Linked DNA regions of Homo sapiens. The protein of the gene in region 2 purifies or fractionates together with the protein of the main gene of each other region. This does not show direct contact. Each region holds a gene or a part of one and is shown on either strand. Other genes may lie near its edges.

The links.
Region 1: the proteins of SLCO2B1 (region 2) and SLC28A2 purify together in Homo sapiens (affinity purification with mass spectrometry; one large-scale study listed by BioGRID and IntAct). This does not show direct contact.

The regions. Positions count from the first base shown.
Region 1 is NC_000015.10:45,255,210-45,259,028, reverse strand, and holds part of SLC28A2 (sodium/nucleoside cotransporter 2), read right to left. Parts: intron 3,700-3,819; exon of another isoform or gene 3,662-3,699; intron 3,078-3,661; exon of another isoform or gene 3,031-3,077; intron 1-3,030.
Region 2 is NC_000011.10:75,202,997-75,207,258, reverse strand, and holds the end of SLCO2B1 (solute carrier organic anion transporter family member 2B1), read right to left. Parts: intron 3,953-4,262; coding exon 3,832-3,952; intron 2,860-3,831; coding exon 2,679-2,859; 3' UTR 710-2,678; downstream 1-709. UniProt on the Homo sapiens protein: Mediates the Na(+)-independent transport of steroid sulfate conjugates and other specific organic anions.

The DNA.
Region 1 (3,819 bases), on a different chromosome or scaffold from region 2:
CAAACCAAAGCTACAATGTGATAATACTACACACATACAATGGAGACAATGAAAAAAGACATGCTCTCATAACACTGCCAGGGGAGTGAAATTTGCTAAAAATATGTTTAGCATCTGTTAAAGCTACATAAACCTACACATACCCTATAGCATGGCAATTCCACTCCAAAGTATATACCCAGTAGAAAGGTGTATTTATCTTTACTAAAAGACATGCACAAAAATGTTCATAGCTGCACTATGATAGCAAAAGCATAGAAACTACTAAAATTCAGACCCACAGTAAAATGAGCAGATAAACTGTGGTAGATTCTTACAATGAAATACTATACAGCAATTAAAAATGTACAAAGTACAATATATGCAATAATATGGAAGAATCTCCAAAGCACAATGTAAAGCAAAAGAAGCAAAAGTATATATATGGTATATTTTCATTTAAAGTATAAATTAGACTTCCCATATAAAGTCCAAACACAGGCAAAATTAATCTATGATGCTAAAAGTCAGGATAATGATTACCCTTAGGGAGGCTGACTGAAAGGAAACATAAAATGGTTCTTGGGTACAGATAATGTTTTGGTTCTTCATCTGGTCGATGGTCATATGGTTGTATTCACTTTGTGAAAATTCATTAAGGCTTATGTTTATTTTTCTGTATGCATGCTATGCTTTATTAAACATTACACTAAAAAGGCAAAAAAAACTGTACCAGTTAAACTATGGCATGCAGTCCCAAAAACATAAATTAAGAATAATAATAATAAAATAAAATTTGACAAAAAAAATATATAGTATATATATTTTTGAGACGGAGTCTCACTGTTGCCCAGGCTGGAGTGCAATGACATGATCTTGGCTCATTGCAACCTCCGCCTCCCAGGTTCAAGAAATTCTCCTGCCTCAGCCTCCCGAGTAGCTAGGAGAACAGGTGCCCACCACCATGCCCACATATTTTTGTATTTTTAGTAGAGACTAGGTTTCACCATGTTGGCCAGGCTGGTCTCAAACTTCTGACCTCAAGTGATCTGCCTGCCTTGGCCTCCCAAAATGCTGGGATTACAGGCATGAGCCACCATGCCCAGCCCCAAGGAATATTTTTTAAAGGAAAAACTAATGCAAATACATGAGCCATCAAGTTTTAATGTACATTGTAAACAATGATATCGTGTTAAGTACTCAGAACTGTGTCAGTGAAACAAAAGATTTAAAAATAAATCCAAATCATCACATTAACTTAATAAAGTCGAAGCAACATCAGAATAGAGAAAGAACTCACAATTTAATAACTTGCTAGAAAAGTGGGTATCAGTATGGAAAAGCATCAGCTTAAAGCTACATGTCAGATTACTCCCTACAAAGCACCCCAGATCATCAGAGTTAATCAAACAAAAGAACAAGAAGAAAAAGAAATAAATACTTAAAAATCAATACAGAAACAAAACAGAATTGAAAAATGTACACATGAAGAAATTACAAAGTCTGTTATCTAGATTATATACATAACTTATTAACATGTATTTATTGAATTTTGAATGTTATGGCATTTTAAGTATAAACTATGGGTAAAGCATTGTTTCCAGTGTTATAGGAGACAAAAGGATGAAATAGACATTGATCTTGCCCTCAATGTATTTACAGTCCAGTATAGGGGATATAATATACATGTAAGTCTATAACAAAATGTCAAAAGCTTAAAGTGTTATAAGAGAGGGTCAGATAGAATGTTATGGAAGTTTGGAGAAAGAAGGGACCTTTTAGTACTGGGGCCAGTGAGGTTGAGGGGAGGAGAGGCAGCATCAGGGAAAGTTTCATGGACATGATTGCTCTTGAGTTGAGCCTTAAAATATGTGTTGTATTTGGGCACAAAGACAAAAAATGAAGACAGTACACTCATAAGCAATGATGTAATGACATGCATGACATGGAGGCAGGAAACTGGGGATTACATATAAGGAACAGTTGATAGTTGACTTTCACTAGAGCATAGGGTGGCATTAGAAAGGGAATTGCAAGAGTTAATGTTGGAAAGTCAAGTTGGATACAGATCCTGGTTGTGGGGAAGAGGTTTTGGGGAGAATTGAATACCAGGCTGTGGAGTTTGGCTTTGTTCAGGAGCAACTGGAGAGCTACAGAGGTTTGTGATATAAGGGAGTTCAGACATACTTTAGGTAGTTTTGGTAGAAGCTATATAGGATAGATTGGCAGGAGGTGGGGAGAACTGGAAACAAGAAATCTATGTGGGTTCTATTAGAGTTGGTCAGGAGAAAGGAAATGAGGTTCAAAATCCAGAACTTACTTTAGTTGATAAAGAAAAGTAGGCCGGCCACAGTGGTTCACGCCTATAATCCCAGCACTTTGGGAGGCTGAGGTGGGCAGATCACCTGAGGTCAGGAGTTCAAGACCAGCCTGGCCAAGATGGTGAAACACCATCTCTACTAAAAATACAAAAAAAAAATTAGCTGGGTGTGGTAGCACGTGTAATCCCAGCTACTCGGGAGGCTGAGACAGGAGAATCGCTTGAACCCGGGAGGTGGAGGTTGCAGTGATCACACCACTGCACTCCAGCCTGGATGACAGAGTGAGACTCCGTTTCCAAAAAAAAAGAAAAGAAAATCACACGTAGAAATATGGAAAGTAAGGCAAATGGAGGAAAATGTGTAGCTTTACAAAAATTTAAAGAAATGCAAGTTAAGGTCAGGCACATGGCTCACACCTGTAATCTCAGCACTTTGGGAGGCTGAGACATGAGGATTGTTTGGGCCCAGCAATTCAAGACCAGCCTGGGTAATGAAGTAAGACCTCATTTCTCAAAAAATAAAAATAAATGCAAGTTAGAACTTTAAGGCATGATTTTATATCTATGTAACTAGTTAACATGGTTTATATGAGAAAATATAAGGTCGATAAGACTTGAAGGGAACTGGACATGTTATATATCAGAGCAGTTTAAGGTGCCAACAACAGTCTGGCAAAAAAAAATTACCAAGATCCTTTCAGCTAAGTACTAATATTATTCTTGTTTTACAGGGTGAAAACTGAGGTTTAGAGAGGGTAAATAACTTGCCCAAAATCTGGTAAGTGCTAGAGTCAGTGGTGCAGGGGAAGCTGGCCTGCGCTGGCTTGAGAGAAGTGATTGTTACATTTTCAGGAATTGTGCAAGCCATTACTAAAAATTAAAACTATATAAACGTATAATTAAATTACATTAAAGACAAAGGTAATAAATACTAAAAACTCATCATTTTCTAATTATTTTGCTACATTTTTCTGTCATGTGAGCTCATGAAGTTATTCATGTCTGCTGTATGTGTATGGTGGAAATTTTATATAATGATACATCTCTTCCCAACTCCTTGTTCAAGTAACCCTTTGGTTACTTGAAATCAGCCATGTTGAGAGTTTTTACGTTACAGGCGAATACTGTAAATAAGGTCTTAATTTATTATTTCATCTAGACTAAAGATTAGCAAGCTGTGGTCTGTGGGCCAAGTTCATCTCACCTTCTTTTTAAAAATTAAGTTTTATCAAAACACAGCCATGCTCATTTGTTTAGTATCACCTGTGGCTGCTTTCCTACGAAAATGGTAGAGTTTAATAATTGCAACAGAGACCACATCAACCACAAAACCAATAATATTTACTACCTTATCTTTTACAGGAAAAGTTTGCCAACCCCTGGTCTTACTCCTCATTAAGGTGAGCAAAAATATTAACCAACATTCATTGCAAAACTACATGTGGACAGCCGGTTCTTTCTTCTTTTTTTTTTTTCAAGACGGTCTCACTCTGTCCCCTAGGCTGGAGTACAGTGGCACG
Region 2 (4,262 bases):
CACAATCAAAATTACTATTTTCTTCCCACTCCAACTTCCCTTGTGTTTCAATTTTCCTTTATGTGGGATAATTGGAGTGGCCATGGGCACTTCTGGGATCTGACCAAGGGGAAGCTGAGTGGGGGACTGATTTGAGTTGGGTTCACTGGGATATGTTTATGTGGTTTTCTGAAACAGAGGATATATTAATATTTATGTGGTTCTCTGTGTATAGATAAATCATTGCTAGTAATCTCTGTGTAGAGAATAGCTTCTAGGAATTCTACCCACTGCCCAGCTCACTTGGCATGGTGATATTAAGTTGCCATATGCAGAGGTCATATCGTGATATGAATGTGTGTCATGGCACCCAGCCCAGGAAGTATATGGGCAGTAGACAAGAAACAGGAGAAACCAGGTTTGAAATGTACAGAGCCAGAAGCTAGTCTGTGGAAAATTCTTCTAATCATCAGGGGGAGAAAATGTGTCTCAGAGGTTAAGCAGGGCAGTTAATAAAAGTATTACGCATTTTGGGGGGATTGTGTGATGTATCTGTTTTGATTTCTTTTCTCATTATAGGTAAATATAGGTACCTTGTACCTAATTTTATATTCATAATTTTGTATATTTTTCTTAAAGAGGGCTCCTCAAATTATAAAACCTTCAGTTCCCACAAGGTCTACACATCCAACCTTGGCTCCATCATTTATTTTCTGTGTGATCTTGGGGAAGTCACTTGTGCTTTCTGAGCCAGTTTCCTCTTCTATAAAATGTGAATGACAATTTGGACAGGTGAGGATTCAGAAATCCTCATGACCTTATTCCATTTTTGAAACCATTAGTAGACGAAGACACTCAAACAAAAATTAGACCAGAATATAAAGATTGGAAAAGATGTAATATACAAGCAATAATGGTGAGCAATGAATCCAGTAAAACCTAAATCTAAGTTAATGGAAATGATGTGGTTGTTGCAAACCTCTAATGCAGTTTATGAAGAAAGAATTTTTGTAATAGAAGAGACATTATGCAAGAACAAATTTAATAATAAGCTGTATCTATAATTCCAGACTTTTTTTCCCTGCAAAACCTGGGAAACAAGAGGGATGAAGGAATATAAACATCCTAAAAGCCTCATATTGTTGAAGGAGACTTTGAAATTCTTGGCGTTGATAGATACATGCTCAGATATTTATTAAACATTTACAGATACCAACCAGCAAAATAAAAAGGGAATTGGAACTTCTGTACCTCCCTTTTCTTTTATCATGTGGGAAAGTCTCAAAGCCCTGGCACTGGGAGCTGCTCAGAAGGCAAGGGCCACATGTGCCCCCAGCTTCCCCCCACCCCCAGCACAGGGCCAGGAAGCCACTGCTGGTGGCTCCCTGTCTGCTGCCTCCCGAGCAGTAGGTCCCAGCGAGGTGGGGTGGTAATAGGTTGGGCTGGGAGCAGATTAGCAAACCCTCTCCTCCCCGCAAGGAAATAACCAGGCCAGATAAGACTAGCCATAAAACAAAACAAGGGCTGATGTAGAAAAGGATTGGATCATAAGACACGAGCAAGCCATAGCATCACTCATTACACAGAGCTGAGCTTTACTGCTCCCAGCACTACAGTCCTGGGCCTGACACCAGCCCAGGCATCGGAGAACCAGGTGCCACCCCCAAAAAACAGTGTCACAGAACTAAACATTATCCACACTGCCCCAGGTGACACAGACCCAGGCACCCAGGAGAAAATAGAGAAATTAGGATCCTAGTCACAAAGGTCACAGGGACTTTGGTGGCCCCTGGTCACATGTGTGAAATCTTGGCAATGTGTAGGAATCAGTGAGTGCGCGCTGAGTGTGTGTTTGTCTGAAATTAGAAAATACCCAAGTGTGGGCCTGAGTCTCCCTCCCTACCCCAGGGCCCAGACTTGCCCACCCAGGGCCCTAAGGCAGGTGTTGGGCCTCACCCTCAACCGTGGCTCCCTGAGGGCAAGGGCTAGAATTTCCTGAGATGGAGAGTGAGTCTCCCCGCTTCAGCTAAGGATTCCTGGGGCCCCCACACAGGCCTCTTGAAGGCCCTGCCAAGTCTGGGTGTCCCACTCCTGAGGCCAGCTCCGTCCTCCCTGTGGGAGTCTACCCAGGGTCCAGCTCAGTGCTCTGCCTCCAGGGGGCGCCAAAGGGACACTTCTTAAAGGCTGCTGGAGTTGGGGAGGAGAGCTGAGTGTACCCTGACCGCACAGATGGTCATAGCTGAACGAGCCTGAAGGCTGGCAAGTTCATTCCTACCTGACAGGAGATGGCTAAGGCTCAAAGAAGGTGATCCAGGCGAGTGCAGACCTGGGCTGGGGCCCAGCATGGAGGGCAGCCTGGCCCACTATGGCTCACTTTGCTATCCTAGGGCCCCAGGGAAAGGTATACTTCTTTCCACCCAGGAAAGCCTGGCCCCAGGACAGCTGGCTGGCTGGGGGAAGGAGGAAGAAGACCCTCTTGCTCCAGAAATGGCCAACACAGCAAATGCCCAAACAACTCTTTGGTTCAGACTAGCAAGCAAAGGCTGAGAGAGGATCAATGTCTTGCCTGAAGTCACACAGCAATTTAGTGGAGGAGCCAGAATGGAACACAGGGCTCTTGACACCCAATCTTGGGCAAAGGACTCAGAGGAGGTACTGCTGTGGCTGCTACTCTTGGCCAGGTGGGGCCCCAAGACAGCTCACACTCGGGAATCCTCTGGCTTCTTCCCTGGCCCCGACACTAGCAATTGCTGCTCTACGGCAGGGCTGGATCTGCTCTCTTTGGTCCTTGCCTCTTTGTCCTGCTGCCTCAGGACAGCCAAAACTAAGGCGAAGCAGATCACAGAACCTGTTTTGAAGAAGAACTGGAGGCCGATGAACCTGGGGAAAGAATGGGGACCCTTGAACTCAAGAGCTGCCAGGCCAGGGCATGGACGTCAGCAGTCATCACTCATTGTGAAATCAGAGATACTGAGGCCTCAGGGAGACATTGACCTCTGCTGTGGCTCTTCCCTGGAGGAGGGGGAGAGGCTCTGCAGAGGAGCCCTGGGTGGGAGCAGAGGCCTGGCCATCTTCATCGCCCTGTCCTGGACTCTGCTCTGTGGCCTGGCCTGGCCCTGCCTCTCTCCGAGCCCAAGGGCTCAGGGGGCCTGACAAGTGCAATTTTATATTGCGCCACCTGCCACAAGAACAAACGGATTCCCTCTCCCCTGTTTAACTATCAAAGCCCTTGTTTGACTTTTCCTTTTCTAGGAAGCCCCCTGTGGACAGTCCCAGCCCACAGAAACTGTGCCCTCCTCACCTCCTCAGAGCTGAAAGTGACCAGCTCCCTGTCCCCAGCCCTGCTAGCAAGTCCTCTCCACATCCATCCCAGGCCAGCCGCCTCTGTGCCTTCAGGTTCCTTTGAGTTCCCCTTTGTACAGATGGGAAGACTGAGCCCCAGACAAGATAAGTCCCATGATGAGGGAGACAGAGCTGGGCCTGAAACCCAGGCCTCCTGTGTCCTAGACAGGGCTTTCTCCCCAGCCCTTCACCCCAAGTCCCTCTCGCAGCATGGCTGCTCCTCTGTTTCTCCCCAAGTTCCTGCATAGACTCTGTGGTCAAGGCCCAGCTCTGCAAGTTATTAGCTGTGTGACCTTGGGCTACTTGCTTTAACTGTCACTTTCCTCATCTATAAAAGGAGGGGGGCAGTGTTTAGCTTGAAGGACTGGTGAGCTCAGCACTGAATATATAATGACACCTGTCACCTAGCAGGTAGACTTAAATGAAACCTCCCCTCCCTGCTGGTATCCTGCCTGGGACTCTGAGAGTATTTCCAGCACCCTTCCCACAAGCCATCAAACCAGGTCTCACCGGTTTCGGAGCAGGTCATTATTGTAGTAGCGACAGACAGCTCGACGCCCACAGCTCAGGGCCCAGTGCACACAGGTGGTGTCGATGGCGCTGCCGTGGATCACGGGGCTGGGCATCCAGGCTGAGGGAGGTGGTGCTCAGGGGACAATGAAGGCCCACCGTCCTACCCTGCCCCCTCCCTGGCATGTACAACCCCTCAGGGGCTCTGGGTTACTGGGGCCTCTTGGCTGTCTGGCCCTCAAGCCCGCCCCACCCCTGCATCCGAGGTGGCTTCCTGACGGGCTGTCTAGACTCTGCCTCTATACCCCGCTCTAGGAGAGCTGGGCCAGGTCTGTCACCCCATGAGCTTGTGAGCCCTAAGATCAGGGATTGAATTCCGCTCATGCCTGTGCCCCAGGCCTGGCACACAGTGGGCATCTGGACCCCATCAC